Homo sapiens: one gene and its partners. The protein of the gene in region 1 interacts with the protein of each later gene in a biochemical or structural test. Each region holds a gene or a part of one and is shown in the gene's direction. Other genes may lie near its edges. The genes, in order: PLD1, ARL11, RALA and ARL14.

Region 1 (7,051 bases):
TTTAAGTGTACATGTAGTGGCATTAAATACATTCACATCGTTGTGCTACCGTCACCACCATCCATCCACAAGACTCTTCATCTTTCTTACAGGGTTTTAATAACATTTTAATGATAATGGTTGTGTTGCAGGCTTTAGTTTTATCACTAAGCAAGGTTTGAGTTCCTTCTCGTAGCTTTAGAGAAATGCACCTTTTAAACTTTTTTTTTTGAGACAGGGTCTCACTCTGTTGCCCAGGTTGGAGTGTAGTGGCACAACAGCCTTGACCTCCTAGGCTCAAGTGATACTCCCATCTCAGTTTCTGAGTAGCTGGAACTAGAGGTGCGCATCACCATCCTTGGCCAGTTTTGTTTGTATTTTTATAAAGATGGCGTCTCACTGTGTTGCTAGGGCTGGTCTTGAACAGCTGGGCTCCCGCAATCCTCCTACTTCGGCTTCCCAAAGTGCTGGATTACAGGCATGAGCTACCATACCCAGCTGAGAAATGCACTTTTAAAAGAGAAAAGGTAAAAAGCCATAGCCAGACTGTTTAACAAATCTTATCTACAGCAGGAAAGACCTAATACATTACTGTTTGAGGATAAGCTTGTGATGTATTTAAACTTGTGTCTAAGGGTATTGTGGGGTTTAGCTGTCAAGAGGAAGGAACACGTAAGGGAATTATTGTTATTGATCATTTCCTCTCCTGAGTATCTATCAGAAAAATAACAATTGTCAGTGTTGTCCTCTATAGCAGTGCAAATAGTACCTATCTAAACTATGCTTGAGCTCAGGTAGTGTTGCCTTTTTAGTAACTAAAAGCAGTGTGTAGCAATTTCCTGTCCATCCCAGATGTTTACTAAAGATTGATACTAGGGGACCCAACACATAAGATATGTCTCTTTAAACTTGTAGTTAGGCTGAGTCATTGTGTTCACAAGAAAAGCTGTAGCTCTGCAAGGTCTGGTTTTGTGTTTACAATCCTTTAAGTCTTAGCACCACAAAATAAAATGTATTTGCTAGGGTGTGGCTAAAAGTTGTTGCAGGGTTAAAATGAGAAACATGTAAACCTAACTTTCCCATAAGCCTGTGACATTTCTGATTACAAAGAGAATCATACAAATCGCATCTTATGCTTCAGTGGGAACACATTCCAGTGTGTTAGTTTCCCTAAATTCACAGTGCAGTGTAAAATCTGGACCCCAGCTGTTTTAGTGCTGGGTTATTAAGCAAAAGTGTATGTTACGTAAGTGTTTCATAGTGTCACAGTGTTTTTTTTCTGTTGTGAAACTTTCTTAATTTTTAAATTTATTGAGCAAACATTACAACGACAGAATAAAATGAATTATTTATTTAATAAACACTTACGTGGTGTTTACTTTGTGCCTTGCACTCATCTAAGCATTTTACAAACATGAATACATTTAACCCTCAGAACAACCCTGTAAAGTAGGTAATCTTATTATGGCCGTTTAATTTATTTATTTATGTTTGTTTTACTGTATTTTATTTTGTAGAGATGAGGTCTTGCTATGTCACCCAGGCTAGTTTCAGACTTCTGGGTTCAAGTGGTCCTCCTACCTTGGCTTCCAAACGTGCTGGGATTCACAGGCATGAGCCACTGAGCCTGGCCTATGCCCATTTTATAGATGAGGCAGTTTGAGGCATAGTGAGATCCCACAACTAGCACATGGTAGAGCTGGGGATCCATCCCAGGCAGCTTGCACCCAGAGTTTTGACACTGCTGTCTGTCTAGAAAAAAACATAACCTGTGATTCCATCCTCTTAACAAACTTTTTTTTAGGTTTTTTTATTTCCATTTCGTCCTTGTTCTTTGACATAATTGCAATTATAGTGCAACTCAGACAATCTGTTCAAGTCCTTTATTTTTCGGAAAACGAAATTAAGGTGGAGCATGGGTATGTCAAAGGGTAGAAGCACTGGGGCAGGGTCCTGGAGATCCTCTGCTGGGCCAGGCCTTAACTCCTGATTGTGAGGAGATTGGGCCAGGGATCCTGGGAGAGTCTGGGAGGCCAGGTGTATTTGGAAGGGGTTGGGTGTTATGTGCAATATTTCCAGAGGGAAGCATTTCAATATTTTAATAATTGTTATGACCATACTAGAGCTAATCTGCTAAATAAGGGCCCACATTATGGCCGACTGGGTCATGGCAGGTCTTGCTTCCTAGGGCTCCAGAATCCTGGATTGCTTCCCCCGTTGCTCCTAATGCCCGTGACCCTCAGCTCCCCTCTGGATGAGGGCAATATTTTATTCTGTACTCAATCATTTTTTGAACTTTTTGGATCTAGAGTTGGGAACCTTTTGGAAGCCTCTGACGCACAAAAGAAAACCAGCCAAAAGCAACATGGAAATAAAAATAACTTAGTTTAGTCAGTTCTTTTGTTAAGAAAGAGAGAGAGAGACTTCTGAGGCCATAAACTTATGAACTTTATATTAAGAACAGGAAAATAAGGGTTCAGAATTTAACAGTGATCTTTTTCAAAGTAGGCTTTTACAGATGGCACATTTAGATGAAGGAGAATAGGAATAAACATGGGGAAAAGGAAAGCCGTAGAAAGGGAGGGGAGAAACAAATGCAGAGACGAGGCATTGGCAGAGGGCCACAGATAGGAAGCAGGGAGCTAATACCTTTGTCAATTCTTTACAAAAAGCCTTGCATCTCAGTGTGTTACCACTGGATGATGCCTTCAAAATCTCATAAGCAGTTGGAGATGATCTTTCCTTTGGTTTATCTTGATGGGATCTTAATGTTTAAACTGTTGCTAATCAACAAAGCATGTGGACAATAAGATACAAGGGAACTCTTAGCCCCTGATTGGGATCTTCATAACAGTCTAGTCTAGTTTGGTTTATGCCACTTTCCATGGGTGGATTTTATATGTAGTGTGATATTAGAATCACTGGATTTGCCATTATTTTTTCTATTGTCTGTCTTCCGTGTGAGAGGGCAAGGTCCTTGAGGTCACAGACTGTGTTTTTGTCATTTTTGTGTCTCCAGTGTCCATTGTAGTGTACAATAGATGTGAACTGAATGAAAGGGTACATGGATGAAGGGAGAAGGTGTAATCCATTTTATTCAAAATACATAGGTATTTCCAGAAAATAAGTCTTTATAATTAACGTTTTACTTATTTATTTGCTCTATGGTGCCATTTAACTATTCTTAAAAATAAAATGTGTAGATGTAGAATGGACAGTCTGTGGCATTTTGGGTAAACAGCTGTACTCACTTCATTGATCTTTTTCTGCCCAATTTCTGATGAAGGAGTCCTTTGAAATAAAGAGTTTGAGTAGGTAGCCATGGGTTGGGATTGGAGATTTATGACTTGGAGCAGAAAAACATTTCCAGATGTGTAGGGCAGTGGTCCTCTGAAGATACAGACCCAAAAGTGAGAAATTTAACCAAAGGGGCTAAGAATAGGAAAAAAAAATGAAGATGATGTTTTAGATATTGTTTTTTAAATGTCACCATTATTCCTGCTTTGGAATAAAAAGAGGTAAGAGGTAAGGTAGGAGTACAGAATTTGGGGATGAAGTATATTTTTGGCACTAACATCACTGTGATGTTAAAACTATTTTTAAAAGATAATAAATACCCACACCTCTGACTTACTAATTATTTTACTAAATTTATTGCTCTCTATGCTATTTATGTTTATTATTTCTATATGGTGAAAATACTGTAACTATTGCACGTCTTCCCCAAACTGTATGTTCTAGTGATATCATGTTGGTAACTTGGAAGCGGCCATGATAGGAATTTCTTTTTTTGAGACAGAATTTCACTCTTGTTGTCCAGGCAGGAGTGCAATGGTGCTATCTCAGCTAACTGCAACTTCCGCCTCCCAGGTCCAAGCGATTCTCCTGCCTCAGCCTCCCAAGTAGCTGGGATTACAGGTGCATACCACCATGCCAGGCTTATTTTGTATTTTTAGTAGATACAGGCTTTCACCATGTTGGTCAGGCTGGTCTTGAACTCCTGACCTAGTGATCCTCCTGCCTTGGCCTTCCAGGAATATTTACACCATCGAAATTGGCAAACACTACAGTTAGGGTTTCTCCTCCACCCGGACCTGGTTGCTAAGCATTTCTCAGCACACCACTGGCTTTGCCCAGGGGGTATATCCGAGCTTCTCCACCCCATCTTTCTTTCTCATTATGACCAAAGAGATTTCTCCTGCACTTTTCTGTCAACCGTCACAGTGATTCTGAATTTGGGGATGTGGTTGGGGAGAAAGGAATACGCTTAGTTATGCAATGTTCTTATCTCTCTGTGCCTATGATCTGGTCTGGTACAAGTCTCAACTGCATTCAATTTAACCCTTGATTCTTCCTTTTGTAGAGATAGAATTCTCCCTGCAACCTCCTGAAGAGCTGGCCTTCCCTCCTTCTCCATCACAGTAGTTCCAAAGTCTGGCTAAACAAAATCACCTGGGAACTTCTTAAAATACAAATTTCCAGGTTCTATCACATATGTAATAAATTTAGATTCTTGAGGAATGGGACTCAAAATAGTATTTTGTAAGTTCCCTTGGGAGTTTGATGATCACCCCATGTGCCTTCTGGGCCCCTCTTGTGGGCTCTTGCTCTCCAGCCCTGGCACCTGTGTACCTTGCTTAGAATCAGGTCATCTGGGCTGCTGGACCCTGGCCACATTGTATGGTAGCCTCGATTTTTATGTTTGAACTCAAATTCTGATCCTGTGAAACTTGGTAATCAGGGGCCACTCTTTGCCCCATTGGCCTGATTTCTCATGCTCATTCATTGGAGCCTGGGTTTCTAACTAGGAAGGCAGCTAGCGTGTTGCAGGGAGACTATCAGAGGAGTCAGGTGTGCTAAGTTTCATTTCTACTTTAGCGTCTGTGTAACCTTGATCAACTTGTTTCTCACCTTTCTGAACTACAGTTGCCTATCTCCAGAGTTTGTTAGGAAGGTTGTTTTTAGAACACATCAAGCTTTGTTCCATCTTAGGGCCTTTTAATCATGCTATTCCCTCTGCCTGGAGCACACTTCTCCTAAGTCTTTGCATGGCTTCCTTCTTTTTTGTCATTTGGATCAATGACAAAATGGTCAAATGTTATCTCCTTGGAAAGGTTTTTTCCCTGACCATTGAAAGCTGCCTCACTTCACAGTCCACATTGCATTGCTTGCTACCTGATCCTGTTCCAGCCTTTCACCTAGGGTTATTTTCATGCTAGGATTCACCACTATCTGAAATTCTTTTTCTTTTCTCTTTTTCTTGCTTACTGGGTTTTCTACACAAGAACTTAAGCTTTATGAGAGTAGGGACTTTCCTGACATGTAGTAGGTGCTCACTAACTACTTGTTGAATGACTACCTTTCCAAGTTGTTATATAAATATATGATGTTAGTGTGAACCCTGGTTCCCAAGGGATTCATTTGTTTTCCTAATTGTTCTTTTCTGACCTCACAGATGTTGCTGTTTTTATGACAATGATTCATTGCTGAGATATTACTGCAATTTGGAACAAAGTGCTGCTCTCAACTGATGAGAAATAAAATCTGTAGCTTTCTATGTGAATGCCTCCTGTCGTTTTCAGAGAGCTTGCAAAAACTTGTTTCAGTTGCATCTGTCATGTGGGTGTATAATCTGTGATAGAATGGATCGATTAAACATGAAAGTATCGTAACATAAATGAGACTGATTTGGGGAAACTCCTGTTTCCTACCTTTTTTGAGTTCTACCGGGGTGGTTTTTGGTAGTGTCATGGGGACTAGGGAAATGTGTATCACTTTGTAAGAAAGGCAGGCCATAGGCTGGGCACAGTGGCTCATGCCTGTTATCCCGGCACTTTGGAAGGCTGAGGCAGGTAGATCACTTGAGGACAGGAGTTCAAGACCAGCCTGACCAACACGGTGAAACCTCATCTCTACTAAAAATACAAAAATTAGCTGCGTGTGGTGGTGAGTGCCTGTAATCCTAGCTACTTGGGAGGCTGAGGCAGGAGAATTGCTTGAACCTAGGAGGTGGAGGTTACAGTGAGCTGAGATCGTGCCATAGCACTCCAGCCTGGGTGACAGAGCGAGACTCCGTCTCAAAACAAAAACAAGAAACAAAAAGAAAGGCATGCCAGAAACGCATGTTGGATATGTTCGTCCTGTCTGATCTCACCAGATACACGGGGTAGGTTTGACTGACAGTGAAGTAATTTTTGCAGATCCATTGCCTGGAAGGCCAATAAAGTTGGCAGTGAAAGCTTTCATCCTGTATTTGCAATAGCCCCTCTTCAGGATGGTGTTGAAGAATTTATCAAGCACAGAGTCTTTTTGGTGCTAACACAGTACTAGGCCTAGGCTAGTGAGTCTAAAATGTGGTTCCAGCCCCACAGCTTATAGTCTAATGCAGTCATCCAAAGGCAGGACTGAATTGTGCAGCAGAATCCTGCCAGGCCTCCTGAAATGGGCTGGCTTTTATAATGATTGTATGTTCCAATTTTCCTTGATAGTGATTTTCAAACTGCTTTGTTTCAGGGCAGTACAGTGGTATGAATATTTGTCTTCCTCAAATTCATATGTTGAAATCCTCACCCCAAGGGGTGATGGTATTAGGAGGTGAGGCCTTTAGGAGATGATTAGGCCATGGTGGCTCTGCCCTTATCAATGAGATTAGTGCCTTTATAAAAGAGGCCAGAGAGGGACCTCTGACTCTCTTCACTAAGTGACGGGTTAGTGAAAAGGCAGCCTCTGGGGAAGCAGGCCTTCACCAGACACCAAATCTGCAAGCACCTTGATCTTGGACTTCCTAGCCCCCAGAACTGTGAGAAGTAAGTTTCTGTTGTTTATAAGCCACCTAGTCTATGGTATTTTGTTACAGTAGCCTGAGTGGACTAAGACAGGTGGCTGGCATTGGAGTAGAGATTGGGTCCAGGGATGTAGACAGCAGACTTCTGGAGCATCTCTAAATACCACATTTAATCAGAGCATCTCATTTAGAAAACATACTATTGTATATTTGCCTTTTAAAAATTATGTTTGGGCCAGGCACGGTGGTTCATGACTGTAATCTCAGCACTTTGGGAGGCCAAGGTGG
Region 2 (6,902 bases), on another chromosome or scaffold:
CATAAGAAACATCAGAAGAAGCATCCTGGCTTACAAGTTATTTTTTGGTGAGTGCAATGGGCGTGCCGTGCTCCTCCAGGCCTGACCACCTGTATGAGAGTTGGCAGGAGGACATTTCTAAACTCACACTCTTAGGGCAGTAGAGATGGGGCCTAAGACCTTTGTCTCTCCTGGTATCAGTGAGCCCCGTGTAGCCCCTTTTCCTTATTCCAGGTCTGGAAGCTGCAGTCACAGACACACAAAGGTGCTGGGGCTTGCACATTCACCAGCGTCACTTTCTCCAGCCACACCACTACGTTTGAGGGCTCTCCTGTCCTTCTCTAACAGAACTAGTCTGGGACTAGACGCCAGGCTTTGGGCTAAGTACTTGATGTGTCTTCACTTATTAAATCCTTCCAATAACCCTTCAAGTTAGGTACCATTATTATCGTCATCAACCTCATTTTATAGAGAAGGAAACTGAGGTGCAGAGAAATTCAGGTTGAGGTTCACAGCAAATAAGCAGTGGAGGCCAAGTGTGCCCCCAGGTGGACCCAAATCAAAGCCACACTGTTACCTTCTGCTCTGCGCTGCCTCCCGGGGCAGTAGCCCTCGTGAGCCTCCCCACGTTGGGGTGTCTAATGAAAAGCTTCCCTGCTGGTTGAGCTGAAGGGGTCAGGGTCGGGGCTGTACAGAGAAACTCAGGCCACAAGGGCCTTTGGGCAGAACTGGGGTCACAAAGTAATCATGGTTTCCCAGCGAACACAAGACTTTGGCCCTCAGGCAAGGCTCCTTGATGTCTGGGGGAGCCTGTGCCCCCCAGCAGTGCTCACAGATCCACCCCTGACTGCCAGCCGGCCCCTTGATGGCGGTGCCTGTCTCAGATTCTGTGGTCAGTGCCACGCAGCTACCTCCAGAGGCAGCCTGCAGCCTGGCCATGTGGCCCCAAGCTCCAGGCTAGAGGCCAAGGGGAGTGTCCCTTCTCTCTCTGTGTCACCCAGGGCATAGGTCACCCAGGCAGCCTGGCATGGTGCCTCCAAGCCACTGTGCTAATGCTTCTACAGCTTCTGCTCCCTCCCTGCCTCCATGGGGCCCAAACCTAGCCCTGGTGCTGCTCTGGGAACTGGGTCAGAGCAGCACCCCAGCTCCCCCACCCCCAGGAGCCCCTCAACCTTGGCCTGCTGTCATCCTCGTCCGGCCCCAATCTTCCTGCAAATCGGGCCCTTGCAGGATTCCTGCTGACTCAGCAGCTGGGCCCGGACAGGACTTAGTCCCAGCGTGAGCCGATCCCGCTGCAGTTTGGGCGAGAATGACAAGCCCTCCACCAGACGATTCTTTATTGCTCTGAGACTTCCCTGGGATAATTCCACCCCCAGGAGCACTCTATCTGTTTCTGTCTCCTCCCCACACACCCCCTGGCCTTGAAAAAGGATGATCACTGACCACAGGCACTGAAAAGAGCAAACCAAGAGCAGCATCAATACCCTCACACAGTGGTGCACATAACACACTTTGAGTTTCTGACTTTTCCTAATCAGTTCTTCCTGCTAAAATACAGTAGCTTAACAAAAACAATGACAACAACAATCTGGTGTTTGCCATTTACAAGGCACTTTCTGTGTGAGTAGCATGACATGGTAAAAGAGAAAGAGATGAATTATAAAACGCAGCAAGATCATGAGTCAATGATTCACCCTGTCCCAGCCTGCTTCTTTTTTTTTTTTTTTGAGACAGAGTCTTGCTCTGTCACCAGGCTGGAGTGCAGTGGCGCGATCTCAGCTCACTGCAACCTCCGCCTTCCGGGTTCAAGCGATTCTCCTGCCTCAGCCACCCGAGTAGCTGGGACTACAAGTGTGCGCCACCATGCCCAGCTAATTTTTGTATTTTTAGTAGAGATGGGGTTTCACCATGTTGGCCAGGATGGTCTCGATTTCTTGACCTTGTGATCTGCCCGCCTCGGCCTTCCAACCGAGCCTGCTTCTTTTCTTGTAAAATGGAAGAGTCATAACATCCAACTTGAGTCTTGATATTTTAATGAAATAATGCATGGGAAAGCAGAAAACAGCACAAAGATTACTGGTTATAAGAGCTAAATCACTGTGACTCCATATCCAAATTCAATACCTACTGAATCAGTGGTTTCTGACTAGTCAATTTTTTTTCTTTTTTTCTTTTTTTTTTTGAGACAGAGTCTCGGCTGGGTGCAGTGGCTCACACCTGTAATCCCAGCTCTTTGGGAGGCCGAGGCGGGCAGATCACTCGAGATTAGAAGCTGGAGACCAGCCTGGCCAACATGGCAAAACCCTGTCTCTACTGAAAATAAAAAAATTATCCAGGCATGGTAGCACGTGCCTGTAATCCCAGGTACTCGGGAGGCTGAGGTGGGAGAATTGCTTGAACCTAGGAGGCGGAGGTTGCAGTGAGCCGAGATTGTGCCATTGCACTCCAGCCTGGGCGCCAGAGCGAGACTCCATCTCAATTAAAAAAAAAAAATAGGAGAGAGACAGAGTCTCACTCTGTCTTCTAGGCTGGAGTGCAGTGCTGTGATCTCAGCTCACTGCAGCCTCCACCTCCTGGGCTCATGCAGTTCTTGGGCCTCAATCTCCCAAGTACCTGGAACTACAGGCACACATCACCATGCCTGGTTAATTTATTATTTTTTGTAGAGACGTGGTTTCACCATATTGGCCAGGCTGGTCTTGAACTCCTGAGCTTGAGCGATCCTCCTGCCTTGGCCTCCCAAAGTGCTGGGATTACAGGCATGAGCCCCCATGCCCGGCGACTAGCCAATTTTTTAAAAATTACATTTTCTAGAGGTGTCATTTTTACTGGGAAAAACACAGTGACACCATTCAAGAAAAAATTGAACGGTAACTTTAATCACTACATTAACACAATTTTAAAGGTTGATCTGCATCATACATACCTTTTAAAGAATGTTTTCATCATATGTAGACAGCTTTTTTTGTTTTTTGTTTTTGTTTTTGTTTTGAGGCAGAGTCTCGCTCTGTCACCAAGGCTGGAGTGCAGTGGTGTGATCTGGGCTCACTGCAACCTCCGCCTCCCGGGTTCATGCCATTCTCCTGCCTCAGCCTCCCAAATAGCTGGGCCTACAGGTAGGTGCCACCACGCCCAGCTAATTTTTGTATTTTTAGTAGAGACGGGGTTTCACCATGTTAGCCAGGCTGGTCTCGAACTCCTGACCTCGTGATCCACCCACCTCAGCCCCCCAAAATGTTGGGATTACAGGCCTGAGCCACCACGCCTGGCCATAGGCAGCTTTTAAAAGAACACATGTGCAGCCTGGCCATCATGGTGAAACCTGTCTTTATGAAAAATACAAAAATCAGCTGGGCATGGTGGCACCTGCCTATAATCCCACTTGCTTAGGAGGTTGAGGAGGGAGGATCGCTTGAGCCCTGGAGGCGGAGGCTGCTGTCCAGCCTGGGCGACAGAGCAAGACTCGGTCTCAAATAGAAAACAAAACAAAACAACAACAACAACAACAACAAACCATGTGTGATTCCAAGCAAATCAGAGAATCTCTAGCCACCAGAAAAACCTTGAGGCATGTACTGAAAGGAAGAGGTCAGAATTCTCTGCGAGGAGCTCAGAGGATCCTGAGGGAAGAGAGAAGGCGGCTGCGCTTGGACACAGCTCCGAGCTCGTGCTCCCTCCTTCAGGCACCCAAGTCTGAGTTGCTAAAAAATGGAGCTGTCACTGGGCCTTGCTCTGCCAGGACCTGCAGAGCCGGGGACCTCTCTGTGGCAAGCCCAGCAAGATGACTGCTCTGAGGCGCCCTAGGGCTGAGGGAGGGGCCGTGACACCAGCCCCGCCCCCCAGCCACCTGGGAAAAGGAAGCACAAAAAGGAGAAGCAGCAACGGCTGCTCTGCTTCCTTCCCATCTCGCTCTTGGGTCATGCCTGGCCAGCAGAAAGCAGCTCCATAGGGGAGGAGAGCCACGCAGGATCTCACAGCTGCAGTCTAATAGTAACACAGAGGTAATTTTAACTTTTTACTTTTCTACCCTTGGGAGTAGGGATGAGTAGAGGCTTACCTCCTTCCAGAGGCAGCTCATATCCCCCCACCCCCATTCCCGGAAGTTGAGATGTCTCTTCTCTGTTCCACGCAGGCATCGTCTAAGTTGGGAACAGGTCTTATGTCTTAAAATTTGGGATTCTTTAAAAACATATGTGGCTGGGCACAGTGGCTCACGCCTGTAATCCCAGCACTTTGGGAGGCCGGGCAGGTGGATAATTTGAGGTCAGGAGTTCAATACCAGCCAGGCCAACATGGTGAAACCTCGTCTCTAATATAAATACAAAAAGTAGCTGGGTGGTAGTAGTAGCTGTAATCCCAGGTACTCGGGAGGCTGAGGCAGGAGAATCCCTTGAACCTAGGAGGCGGAGGTTGCAGGGAGGCAGAGGTTGTGATGAGCCAAGATTGCACCACTGCACTCCAGTCTGGGTGACACAGTGAGACCCTGTCTCAAAACAACAACAAAAATGTGTGATGGCACATGCCCATAGTCCCAGCTACTGGGGAGGCTGAGGTGGGAGGATGGCTTGAGCCTGGGAAGTCGAGGCTGCAGTGAGCTGTGATCATGCCACTGCAGTCCAGCCTGGGCGACAGAGTGAGACCCTGTCTCAAAACAAAACAAAACAAAACAAAACAAAAAAACCCAAAAACAAACAAAAAAGCACATGTGGAGTGTTGTAGAAGTCATTGACCTTGGTAAGACAGTGGAGGAAACTGCTTTGCTCTGACTCATAAATTTGCCCCCAGTAAACAGTATTTATAAATAGCCCCAGTCAGGCACTGCATGAAGACATTTCAGTCAACGACAGACCACATATACAACGGTGGTCCCATAAGATTATAACAGAGCTGAAAAATTCCTATTTTTCAGCTTAGTGTTGTGGTGCAACCACTACCTTTTCTATGTTTAGATACACGAATACTTAGCACTGTGTTACAATAGCCTACAGTACCCATTACAGGAATGCTGTACCGGTGTGTAGCCCAGGAGCAATGGGCCATACCATATAGCCTAGGTGTGGAGTAGACTAGACCATCCACGTTTGTGTAATTACAATCTATGATTTTGTAAAATGATGAAATTGCCTAATGAAGCATTTCTCAGAATGTGTCCCCGTCATTAAGTGACACCTCACTGTGTTTCCAAGACATAGTACTGGTCCTTGGGAAGCTCTAAAGAGAGGTCACCGTGAGCTGAACCATCCTTCTCACTCTGTGCATGGAACCCAGCTTAGCTTCCATTTCAGCATTTAGGCTTATAGGAGGAGAAGAGGTTAGAAGCCACAGACCAGCAAGAATTGAAGACATCGTTCTGTAATTTCTACTGAACCAGCTCTGTCTGACTGGAACTTCATTTTGCCTCTTTGCTTTAACTCCTCAGGAATGTCTTCCAGGAGGCCCCTGATCTTCTCTGCTCAGGGACCACTCTTATCTGACCCAGAGACAGGTTAGCTGATGGTGACTCACACATCCTCACTTCCTTCAAAGCCCAGGCATCTGTTTAAAATCTGACCCTGTGAAGACTTTTCCTGTTTTGGAAAAACTCTTCCGTTGTTTGCCTGCACAGATTTGTGCTCCATTTTTAATTTCAATTTTTGTAGAGAAGGCGGGTCCTTGCTTTGTTGCCTCGGCTTGTTTGAAACTCCTGGGCTCAAGTGATCCTCCTGCCTTGGCCTCCCACAGTGCTGGGATTACAGGTGTGAGCCACTGCACCAGGATGGATTTGTCTTCCTTCAGAAGACAGTAGCTGATGTGTGCCCTGGCCTTTCTCCCCTAGGATTCAGCAGTGGCCACCATGGGTTCTGTGAATTCCAGAGGTCACAAGGCGGAAGCCCAGGTGGTGATGATGGGCCTGGACTCGGCGGGCAAGACCACGCTCCTTTACAAGCTGAAGGGCCACCAGCTGGTGGAGACCCTGCCCACTGTTGGTTTCAACGTGGAGCCTCTGAAAGCTCCTGGGCACGTGTCACTGACTCTCTGGGACGTTGGGGGGCAGGCCCCGCTCAGAGCCAGCTGGAAGGACTATCTGGAAGGCACAGATATCCTCGTGTACGTGCTGGACAGCACAGATGAAGCCCGCTTACCCGAGTCGGCGGCTGAGCTCACAGAAGTCCTGAACGACCCCAACATGGCTGGCGTCCCCTTCTTGGTGCTGGCCAACAAGCAGGAGGCACCTGATGCACTTCCGCTGCTTAAGATCAGAAACAGGCTGAGTCTAGAGAGATTCCAGGACCACTGCTGGGAGCTCCGGGGCTGCAGTGCCCTCACTGGGGAGGGGCTGCCCGAGGCCCTGCAGAGCCTGTGGAGCCTCCTGAAATCTCGCAGCTGCATGTGTCTGCAGGCGAGAGCCCATGGGGCTGAGCGCGGAGACAGCAAGAGATCTTGATCCAGACAGAGCAGCATATCTTTGCTCATACAAACTAGAAGAACCAGCTGATCCTTGAGAAATTTACGCTTAGTCTATCAAACAAGAAATGCTGGCTTGGCCCGGTGGCTCATGCCTGTAATCCCAGCACTGTGGGAGACCACGGTGGGGGAATCCCTTGAGCCCAGGAGTTGGAGAGCAACATCACAACACCCCATTTCTACTAATAATCAAAAAATTGGCCGGGCATGGTGGCATGTGCCTGTAGTCCCAGCTACTTGGGAGGCTGAGGCAGGAGAATCGCTTGAGCCCAAGAGGTAGAGGTTGCAGTGAGCCAAGATCGCGCCACTGCACTCCAGTCTGGGCAACAGAGTGAGACCCTGTCTCAATAATAATAATAATAATAATGATGATACTCTAAGAAAAAAATCTCAACATACTTCATTTAATAGCTCGTTACCAAGTGTGAATGAAGCAATATGTCATAATAGAGTAGCCACTGGTTGCATAATAATAGAGA
Region 3 (5,100 bases), on another chromosome or scaffold:
ACTCAGGTTCTGTTTAGGAGGAATGATATTTAGCAGCCACAGCATAGTTACATAATTTGCTTGTTGCTATTGTGTTGTCATTTTTCAGTGAATAGTTCTAGGAAATAGGTATTATTAAAAGAAAAAAATGTGATCATGTTGTTATTTCCAATTCAAATTTAACATTACAAATGTTTACATCTTTGATTTTGTACTTGTATCTTTTCTCTTACACTGAAGATCTTGGTTCCTAAATTACATTAACATAATTCCTCCCTTGCATTAATAAAATAGTTCCAAAAGAGCAACATTGCTGTCACAAACAAACTACAAAATGAAGTTTGGCTGGGTGTTGTGGCTCACATCTGTAATTCCAGCACATTTAGAGGCTGAGACAGGTAGATCACCTGAGGTCAGGAGTTCGAGACCAGCCTGGCCAACATGGCAAAACCCCGTCTCTACTAAAAATACAAAAATTAGCCAGACATGGTGGTGCCTGTCTGTAATCCCAGCTACTTGGAAGGCTGAGGCAGGAGAATCTCTTGAACCCGGGAGGCAGAGGTTGCAGTGAGCTGAGATCACGCCATCCCACTCCAGCCTGGGCAACAGAGACTCTCTCAAAAAAAAAAAAAAAAAAAGAAGTTTAAGATTTGTCTTTGTTTTGTTTTGTTGGAATTTTGTTTCTATTTTTATCCTTAGCATCTATTCTAAAATAGATACTTTCTATGCTGTCTTATAGACCTTTGAAATAATTCCTCTAGTCAGTCTTACTTGTTTGTGTCTTGTTTGTTTGTTTTTTGAAATGGAGTCTCACTCTGTTGCCCAGGCTGGAGTTCAGTGGCACGATCTCAGCTCACCGCAACCTCCGCCTCCTGAATTCAAGTGATCTGCCTCAGCCTCTCGAGTAGCTGGGATTACAGGCATACGCCACCACACCTGGCTAATTTTTGTATTTTTAGTAGAGATGGGATTTCTCTATGTTGGCCAGGCTGGTCTTGAACTCCTGACCTCAGGTGATCCGCCCACCTCAGCCTCCCAAAGTACTGGGACTACAGGCATGAACCACCACGCCTGGCCAGTCTTAATTTATTTTAATTTGATTTTCAATTTTTAGGATTTGCTATTTTGTTTTATTTTTTATTTTTATTTTTTTGAGACTGAGTCTTGCTCTGTCGCCCAGGCTGGAGTGCAGTGGCACAATCTCGGCTCAGTGCAACCTCCACCTCCTGGGTTCAAGCAATTCTTGTGCCTCAGCCTTCCCAGTAGCTGGGATTACAAGTGCCCGCCACCACACCCAGCTAATTTTTGTATTTTTTGTAGAGACGAGGTTTCACCATGTTGGCCAGGGTAGTCTAGAACTCCTGACCTCAGGTGATCTGCCCGCCTCGGCCTCCCAGAGTGCTGAGATTACAGGTGTGAGTCACCATGCCTGGCCTAATTTTATTTTTGAATACGTAAAACACCTATGTCTCTAAAGTAGAAATTCTATAACAAGATACACTCAGAGATGCCTCACTCTTCCTTGTACCCTCCTCCCTTCTTCAAAATGAAATTGATTATTAGGGTTTGGTTTATTATTTCATTGTTCTTTGTGCAAGGGCGAACAAATCCATGTATACTCCTGCCCTACACACACACACAGGTAGCGCTCCATCTGCTATTCTGTGCCTTGCTTTTTTCAGACGCGTTAGGAAAGGCCACATCAGTCATGACATACACAGGCTTCTTTACTCACAGCACTCATTGTCGCTTTCATATTTCTTGCTTTAGTCTGAGTTTTTTAATTCTATAAGTAAAAACATTTTTTAAATCCAGAATTCAAAAGTGATCATAAAAGTTATTCCTCCTTTTATCATATACTCTCAGCCGTTTATGTGGAGTAGGAGTGTGAGTGTGTAGCCTTCCAGACCCTTCTGTGTTACAGAACAGAGGAATTTCTTATTGAAATTTAACTTTGAATTGTTATACTCGTAATTTTCTTAGTTACTATGCTAATATCTCATTATTTACCGGTTCCTAGACATCAGACAAAAACTGATAAATTCTCAAATACAGAGTAACAGACAAAGTTGTTTCATAGTGTCTGGTATCAAGATGATAAAGCATACACCCATCTTCCTCAGCTTCATTTCTAAAAATGGAACTGAGGAAACCAAGTTATGAAATATAATCAAATTATTAAATATAAATTTAAGCATATATTATTAAATATAAATTAATAAAATACATTTATTGATTATAAACTACTTAAATATAATCCATTGAGTTCTATCTTTGGGTCTGTCATCACCTTATAGAACTTTTTAGACTTTTGTCTCGAAAACTGGAACAGAAAGATCAGGTTTTATTACATATGAACATTTTTACCATAAAGTGTAATTCAGAAAACTTCCTAGTTTCCTCCTTTTTTCAAGATACTAGGAAAATCAGGCTTTAGTTTTATGCTTTCCGCTCTGTACTCCCAAACAAGAGCTCTTAAATATTTATACTTCTGTTACCCCCAAAGTTTACTGCTGTGATTTGGAGAAGTACCAAGTTCATGTATCTGTTTGCTTTATTTATCCTATTTTTTTTCTTTCTAGGTATTTTTTGATTTAATGAGAGAAATTCGAGCGAGAAAGATGGAAGACAGCAAAGAAAAGAATGGAAAAAAGAAGAGGAAAAGTTTAGCCAAGAGAATCAGAGAAAGATGCTGCATTTTATAATCAAAGCCCAAACTCCTTTCTTATCTTGACCATACTAATAAATATAATTTATAAGCATTGCCATTGAAGGCTTAATTGACTGAAATTACTTTAACATTTTGGAAATTGTTGTATATCACTAAAAGCATGAATTGGAACTGCAATGAAAGTCAAATTTACTTTAAAAAGAAATTAATATGGCTTCACCAAGAAGCAAAGTTCAACTTATTTCATAATTGCCTACATTTATCATGGTCCTGAATGTAGCGTGTAAGCTTGTGTTTCTTGGGCAGTCTTTCTTGAAATTGAAGAGGTGAAATGGGGGTGGGGAGTGGGAGGAAAGGTGACTTCCTCTGGTGTTTATTATAAAGCTTAAATTTTATATCATTTTAAAATGTCTTGGTCTTCTACTGCCTTGAAAAATGACAATTGTGAACATGATAGTTAAACTACCACTTTTTTTAACCATTATTATGCAAAATTTAGAAGAAAAGTTATTGGCATGGTTGTTGCATATAGTTAAACTGAGAGTAATTCATCTGTGAATCTGCTTTAATTACCTGGTGAGTAACTTAGAAAAGTGGTGTAAACTTGTACATGGAATTTTTTGAATATGCCTTAATTTAGAAACTGAAAAATATCTGGTTATATCATTCTGGGTGTGTTCTTACTGACACCAGGGGTCCGCTGCCCCATGTGTCCTGGTGAGAAAATATATGCCTGGCACAGCTTTTGTATAGAAAATTCTTGAGAAGTAACTGTCCGCTAGAAGTCTGTCCAAATTTAAAATGTGTGCCATATTCTGGTTCTTGAAAATAAGATTCCAGAGCTCTTTGATCGCTTTTAATAAACTGCAAGTTCATTTTAAATGAAGGGCCAGCATATATACTTGCAAGATAATTTTCAGCTGCAAGGATTCAGCACCAGTTATGTTTGAATGAACCCTCCTTTTCTCTGAGATTCTGGTCCCTGGAAATCCCTTTCTGCTAGTGGTGAGCATGTAAGTGTTAAGTTTTTAATCTGGGAGCAGGGCATAGGAAGAAAATGTCAGTAGTGCTAATGCATTTTGCACTAGAACGCTTCGGGAAAATATTCATGCTTGCCATCTGTTCATTTCTAAATTTATATTCATAAAGTTACAGTTTGATACAGGAATTATTAGGAGTAATTCTTTTCTGTTTCTGTTTATAATGAAGAACACTGTAGCTACATTTTCAGAAGTTAACATCAAGCCATCAAACCTGGGTATAGTGCAGAAAACGTGGCACACACTGACCACACATTAGGCTGTGTCACCATTGTGTGGTGTACCTGCTGGAAGAATTCTAGCATGCTACTTGGGGACATAATTTCAGTGGGAAATATGCCACTGACCGATTTTTTTTTTTTCCTCTTTGCAGTGGGGCTAGGACAGTTGATTCAACAAAGTATTTTTTTCTTTTTTCTCAGTCCTAATTTGAACAGGTCAAAGATGTGTTCAGGCATTCCAGGTAACAGGTGTGTATGTAAAGTTAAAAATAGGCTTTTTAGGAACTCACTCTTTAGATATTTACATCCAGCTTCTCATGTTAAATATTTGTCCTTAAAGGGTTTGAGATGTACATCTTTCATTTCGTATTTCTCATAGGCTATGCCATGTGCGGAATTCAAGTTACCAATGTAACACTGGCCAGCGGGCCCAGCAATCTCCATGTGTACTTATTACAGTCTTATTTAACCAGGGGTCCTAACCACTAACATTGTGACTTTGCTTTGAGACCTTTCCTCTCCTGGGTACTGAGGTGCTATGAAGCCAACTGACAAAGATGCATCACGTGTCTTAGGCTGATGCCACTACCCGATTTGTTTATTTGCAATTTGAGCCATTTAAAGACCAATAAACTTCCTTTTTTAAAATGTTTGTGGTGTTACTTGATGTTTACAATGTAACATGTAACATTCAAATGTATCAAATGAGGCATCTTTACCAAACAACTAAATCTTTTGAGCTCTCAGTTTGGAGACTTCTTTTGTGTAATGCCAGATTTCCTAAATAACAGTGTCAGCATTGCTCAGATTTAATCAAGGCTCAGAAATGGAAGGACTCGTGTACAACTACATTGAAGATATTCTATGCCGTCATGAAATGACAAATGTGTACATTACTTTTAGAATGCTCCAAACTCTAGAATGAATAGGTGACAGCTTTATATTCATTTTCTAATCAGAATGACCCCCAGAGACAATTTCCAAATTGTGGGAAGAATGACACCCTGTACCATTTCACCAAGCTTCAGGCCAACGTTTGATGTCTGGAGGGAAGCGTGGCCTATTAACTATCGAATAGCCTGCAAGTTAGAAACAATCCAGCCCAATATTGAGCACAACCTTTCAAAATCTGGTTCATTTTAATTTCGTAACTCATAAGCAGTGCTAGAATGAGCACATTTAAGTAATA
Region 4 (5,710 bases), about 11 Mb from region 1:
GAGCTTAGGACTTTTTGCCTCACACCTCCATGGTAAGAAATTAAAGAAAATGTTTCTTTCATTCCCATATTTTAAAACAAATTTCCTGTGACACCACAGTTAGCCTGCCAGTAACTCTCTCACAAGTCTACCTTTATTTGCGTAATCTTAGAATGATTTACAGAAAACAAATACCTTGCCTTCCCTCAAGTTTGGCTGGGACACATGAATCCATAAATGTTTTGGGACAGTAAGAAAGGATATTGAAACATTTGTAGATTCTTTCATGACAATTAGCATTGACAAAGAAATTATCTTATTTCTTTTCACAGAAGAGAATCATATTCTTATGTGGATATAATATTCATGCAGAATTTAAGCCCTCATTTGTTTGGCTATCCCGAAAACAAGGTATAATTGGTCAGATGGGAGACAATGAAGGCATATATGTATGATCATGCTCATTACAGCAAAAATATATTAAAGGATGTCCCCAATACCAACGGTAGACCTCATAAAGCACTCAAATCATTGAGTTTATTATAAAATAAATGTTTAACTTCTTTCAAAAATTTTAATTGTTGAAATATGGAGGTGAGAAAGAGCTTAAGCAGTAGTGCAGTCAAAGTCCCTAAATTCACCTTTGGAAGTACGGACTTACCCCTAAGTAAGCTGAATTATTTTCTGTATTACTATGGACTACAGTCTAATTTTATTAGCTTATTTCAATTATATTCTTTTTTTAACATGTTATTTTGAAAAATTTCAAATCTAGAGGAAAGTTAAAAAATAGTAAAATGAACATTCAATACCTCTGACCTAGAGCCACCAACTATCGCCATATTTACACACACTTCCTCCCTCCCATATACATACATATCTTTGTGTGCATGTGTTTGCTGAGCCAGTTGAAATTAACTTGCTGATATCACCCCTAAGTACTTTAGCCTGTATCTCCTTGAAACAAAATCATCTTCCTACATAACAATTGAATTATTGCCTTCAAGAAATTTATCATTGATAAATAATACCATCTAATATACAGTTCATAATCAAGTTTCCCCAATTTGAATTTTCATAATTGTTATAGTAATTTCCTTAATCACTATTATTGACACAGGATCCAATAAAAGTTTACACAATGCATTTAGTAGTCATGTATCTTTTATTTAGAACATTCTTCCCCCGATCCTTTTTTTCCTTTCTGTCTTTCATGACATGGACCTACCTTGTAGAGTCCAAGTCTGTTGTCTTGCAGCATGGCCTATAATCTAGATTTATCTTATGGTTTTATCATGATAGTTCAAAATGTTTATGGAAGAAACCCCTACTTATCCATATACAGTTGGTTTTCCACATACATCCCCATATTTTCCCATTTCTAAGACTTTGCTCTCACAGACTGTTTCTTTCATGTATGCCCTCACGTGTCTCTACAAGGCCTGGTTCAATACTTAACCTTCTCCAGGAAGATTTCTCTGACGCCTTTCATTCTGAAAGAGTCTGTGAATACCTAGAATACATTAGCCTTTCTTTTCTTGTAGCATGTATAATTTTTTGACTTTGTATGTATTTTTATTTGGTCACATATCTTTTACCTTCTCCCCAGTGAAAGTCAACTAAAGGCAAGCCTAGTTTATCTTTGTGATCTCTCTGGCATCTAGCACAGACTAGGCCATCAATATGTTTATTTCCTGAATGGTTAGATGAATAAATCAATGAACAAATCAAAACAGTATCTTTAGCCTCTGAGATATAGTGAGTTGGTTAAGAACTTAATTCTTTATAAAAGGTTACAGAATTTCTTCATACGTGTGCTTTCTGCATCTAAAATAGTCTACTTATTTTGTGTAAAAACTCTAAATAAATTTTTAGTTTTAATAAGAAAACATGTATATCACATGGTATAGCTCTTTTAAAAATCATGTTGGTAAGCGTTGAGGGAAGTCTTTCAATCTGGCAAGTTCATTCTTTAGCTTTGGGAAGTGGTCCCATATTATTTCTTGATAATTTCCTCTTGTGCATATTTTTTTTCTCTCTGGAATAAGTCCTATAAATCAGACTTCTGAGTTAAGATTTCTGAGTTCATCCTCTATATGTCTTATCTTTTCTTCTGTATTTTCTATCTTCGACTTTCTGAAAGACTCCTTCAATATTGTCTTCCAGCCTACAGGTATTACTGATCTTTAAAATTTTTTGAAATTTGTGTTTTTAATTTTTAGGAGTTTTGTTTTTATTCTCTGAGTGGTCTGTTTAATACCATCCATTTCTTGTCTTATGGATGTAATATCTTCTCAAGTCTGTATAAAAATAGTAATTAGAATTTAATGAAAATGTTCTTCTGTTCCCTTCATTAGCTCTGTTTAAGCTTTCTTAAAAGTTCTTATTTTTATCTTGGTCTCTCTCTTATTCATATTGAAGGCATGCTATCCATTAAGTATAGAAACTTCTGTGCACTGCAAAGCTGATTGGGAATTCTATGTATGTGAGCAAGTTTGCCAACTGCCAGGTTGGCTATAGGTTAATTACATGTTGACTTTGGCATTATGGTCAGAAACTCCCAACTGTCAAAACATGGAGATCTTTTTTCTGAGATCATTCAATTTCTTTAATAAAAAACTCTTCAGTATTTTGCCTGGGAATAAACATCTAGTTGCTGAAGACACCCAGCAGAGGGGTGTGTGTGTGTGTGTGTGTGTGTGTGTGTTCTGTTTATTTTGGCTTCTTGTTACCTTCTGCTGTTTTTAGTCCTTTATTTCACCCCTTCTGTCTGCCATACCTGTCACCTCTTGTCTATCTCCTCTGCATCAGCACTCCAAGCCTTGGCTTTATCCTGCTATATCAGTTATCACTCATTTTTCCATCTAGTTTCCATTTTCCAGAATTTTGTTAAAATTTCTGACCCTTTGATGAATTATCTTGCTGTTTTGTTATGGATTTATATGTTTTTTTTGTTTTTTTTTTTTTGAGACGGAGTGTCTCACTGTCACCAGGCTGGAGTGCAGTGGTGCGATCTCGGCTCACTGCAACCTCCGACTCCCTGGTTCAAGCGATTCTCCTGTCTCAGCCTCCCAAGTAGCTGAGATTATAGGCACGGGCCACCACGCCCAGCTAATTTTTTTGTATTTTTAGTAGAGATGGGGTTTTACCATGTTGACCAGGCTGGTCTTGATCTCCTGGCCTCATGATCCACCCACCTCGGCCTCCCAAAGTGTTGGGATTACAGGCGTGAGCCACCATGCCTGGCCTATATGTTCTTTTAATGCCTTTACCATTATTCTGTGGAGTCTTGGGAAGGAGAGGAAATAAATGCATGTTTTTATTTGCCATCTTTAATTGGACTGCTTAATGTAAAACTGTTCGTGTTATAAATTCCCCCTCATATATTTGGTTTTGTGACTGCAGTAGTGTAAATTCTCTGCCTAGAATTTTAAAGAAAGTGATTCTGTATGTGATTAGGGAGTAAGGTTCAGATAACCTTGAGTGGTTTAAAGTTTCCTACTGAGTAATCTGAACAAGGCGGATTTAAGATACTGCAGACAGAGTGTGAGAATAACTCTCTCTTCACAACTTAAGAAGCCTGGTTCCTTATTTACAACTGGGATAAGATAAATGGTTGAATACCTAGAGAAGTTCCACAAAAAGTTACACAAAAAGTTTAGTTAAATTTAAGTTAAAAGTTAGTTAAAATGAAAAGTTAAGTTTTTATTCTGCTACTAAACCATGCTCCTCTGCGTGTCTGAACCTTCAGGTTCCTCTAGATTTCTAGCACCTGAAAGAAAACAAAACTGCAGCATCAGCCAGGTAGGCCTCTCCTAATCTTACTCATTCACAGAGAATTTCCCCTTTGAGTCACCATGGCATTGGCTGGTTACTCATACCACAGATCCCTCAGGATTGGCTGGGACTGCAAATAAAATACTGTTTGCCCATAATCAAGTTGATAAGCTACAACATAAACACATCTAGGTTCTTGTTCTTAGAATACAGCATGAAGAATTTGCTTTCTTCTTTCTTCCTAACATTTTCATGTGAGATCCAGAAAGGACACATTGTCTCTGGCCATTCGAAGAAAGAAAGAAAGAAAAAAAAAAAAGGTATTTAGAGACAGAGAGAGAAAAAGGCTGAAATGGGTTCGCTGGGTTCTAAAAATCCGCAAACCAAACAAGCCCAAGTTCTTCTTTTGGGACTTGACTCAGCTGGGAAGTCTACTCTCCTTTATAAATTAAAGCTTGCTAAGGATATTACCACCATCCCTACAATAGGTTTCAATGTGGAAATGATCGAGTTGGAAAGGAATCTTTCACTCACAGTCTGGGATGTTGGAGGACAGGAAAAAATGAGAACTGTTTGGGGCTGTTACTGTGAGAACACCGATGGGCTGGTGTATGTTGTGGACAGTACAGACAAACAGCGACTGGAAGAGTCTCAGAGACAGTTTGAGCACATTTTGAAGAATGAACACATTAAAAATGTGCCTGTTGTTCTATTAGCCAACAAACAAGACATGCCTGGAGCTCTGACTGCTGAGGACATCACCAGAATGTTCAAAGTGAAGAAGCTTTGCAGTGACCGGAACTGGTATGTGCAACCCTGCTGTGCCCTCACAGGGGAGGGGCTGGCCCAGGGGTTCAGGAAATTAACTGGATTTGTGAAGAGCCACATGAAATCAAGAGGAGACACTTTGGCGTTCTTCAAGCAGAACTGAGGCTGCGAAAAATCCAAGTCTCTACAGAGACACTGATGAAGTTGAAAGGGTAATTGTTTTTCCATGCCAAATGAGGAAATCAAATTAATGAGTTGACAAACTTTTCCTGAGATGTTATTTCATCTACATTTAGTTAAACAACTTAGAATGATATCTAGAAAATATTTATTTTCAGCCAGGAACTTTAGCAAACTGTGGCAATGATCACTGGGAATGAAAACGTATAATGTTCTACAATTTTTGTTATCACATTGGATGACTTTGAATATAGTAGTGACACTTGGGACCAAATAAATTATTTTATATGACTACTAGAACAAAGTTTTAGTAAGCTGTCTGCTAATAGAGTCAGAATTCTTCCAGATTGTTTCCAGCTGTAACAGGTATTGAATTTCCACCGTGCTCCTATGTAACAGCTGGGTGGTGTAAAAAATGAACTTCAAATTATGGAGTGGAAAAAGCGTAATGTTAATATCTTGTAAATTCGTATTCCCTATTAAATAAAGCTTTCTTATTCCCTAAATAAAGCTGTTCTTCTGGATTCCTGCCAGCTTTTTGAAATCTATTGCTGGGAACTTCCTCCAATGAATCTTAAACAATGAACTTCAGGCTGCTAATTGCTCAGAGCCTGTGTTCTGCCATAGGGAGCAGAAGTGTATAAACTTAAAGGTCTGGTGATCGGGGTAGCACCTTGGAGTTTAGGGCAAGATCTGGGCTCAGGGCTTAGCTCTAGGCTACAGCCCCGAGTCTTGCTTCCTTGGAATTCAGCTTAACAGCCATTGCTTGGAAACATATGTGCAGCTCATTGTACTGATCAAACAGGAACCAGACCTAGACTTTGCTCTCAGAGACCTACAATTCACAGCAGGAAACAACATAAAGCTAGTAGCTAGAGTAGGGCAATAAGTGCTAAGTGCGATTGCAGGAGATACTCTTTTTAACCAGGGAAACAAGAAATGTTTCATGCAGGAGATGGTATTTTAGAGGGTCCCTCACTCCCAGTGACCCTACAAAGGTACAGGT

What was found.
Region 2: the proteins of PLD1 (region 1) and ARL11 form a complex in vitro, tested with the Homo sapiens proteins (one study listed by BioGRID).
Region 3: the proteins of PLD1 (region 1) and RALA form a complex in vitro, tested with the Homo sapiens proteins (2 studies listed by BioGRID).
Region 4: of the proteins of PLD1 (region 1) and ARL14, one has a biochemical effect on the other in vitro, tested with the Homo sapiens proteins (one study listed by BioGRID).

What each region holds. Positions count from the first base shown.
Region 1 is NC_000003.12:171,800,454-171,807,504, reverse strand, and holds part of PLD1 (phospholipase D1), read left to right. Parts: intron 1-7,051. UniProt on the Homo sapiens protein: Function as phospholipase selective for phosphatidylcholine. Implicated as a critical step in numerous cellular pathways, including signal transduction, membrane trafficking, and the regulation of mitosis.
Region 2 is NC_000013.11:49,624,636-49,631,537, forward strand, and holds the start of ARL11 (ADP-ribosylation factor-like protein 11), read left to right. Parts: upstream 1-3,871; 5' UTR 3,872-3,980; intron 3,981-5,794; 5' UTR 5,795-5,812; coding exon 5,813-6,403; 3' UTR 6,404-6,902.
Region 3 is NC_000007.14:39,703,562-39,708,661, forward strand, and holds the end of RALA (ras-related protein Ral-A precursor), read left to right. Parts: intron 1-2,561; coding exon 2,562-2,684; 3' UTR 2,685-4,559; downstream 4,560-5,100. UniProt on the Homo sapiens protein: Multifunctional GTPase involved in a variety of cellular processes including gene expression, cell migration, cell proliferation, oncogenic transformation and membrane trafficking.
Region 4 is NC_000003.12:160,673,239-160,678,948, forward strand, and holds ARL14 (ADP-ribosylation factor-like protein 14), read left to right. Parts: upstream 1-3,921; 5' UTR 3,922-4,108; coding exon 4,109-4,687; 3' UTR 4,688-5,210; downstream 5,211-5,710. UniProt on the Homo sapiens protein: GTPase that recruits MYO1E to MHC class II-containing vesicles via the effector protein ARL14EP and hence controls the movement of these vesicles along the actin cytoskeleton in dendritic cells.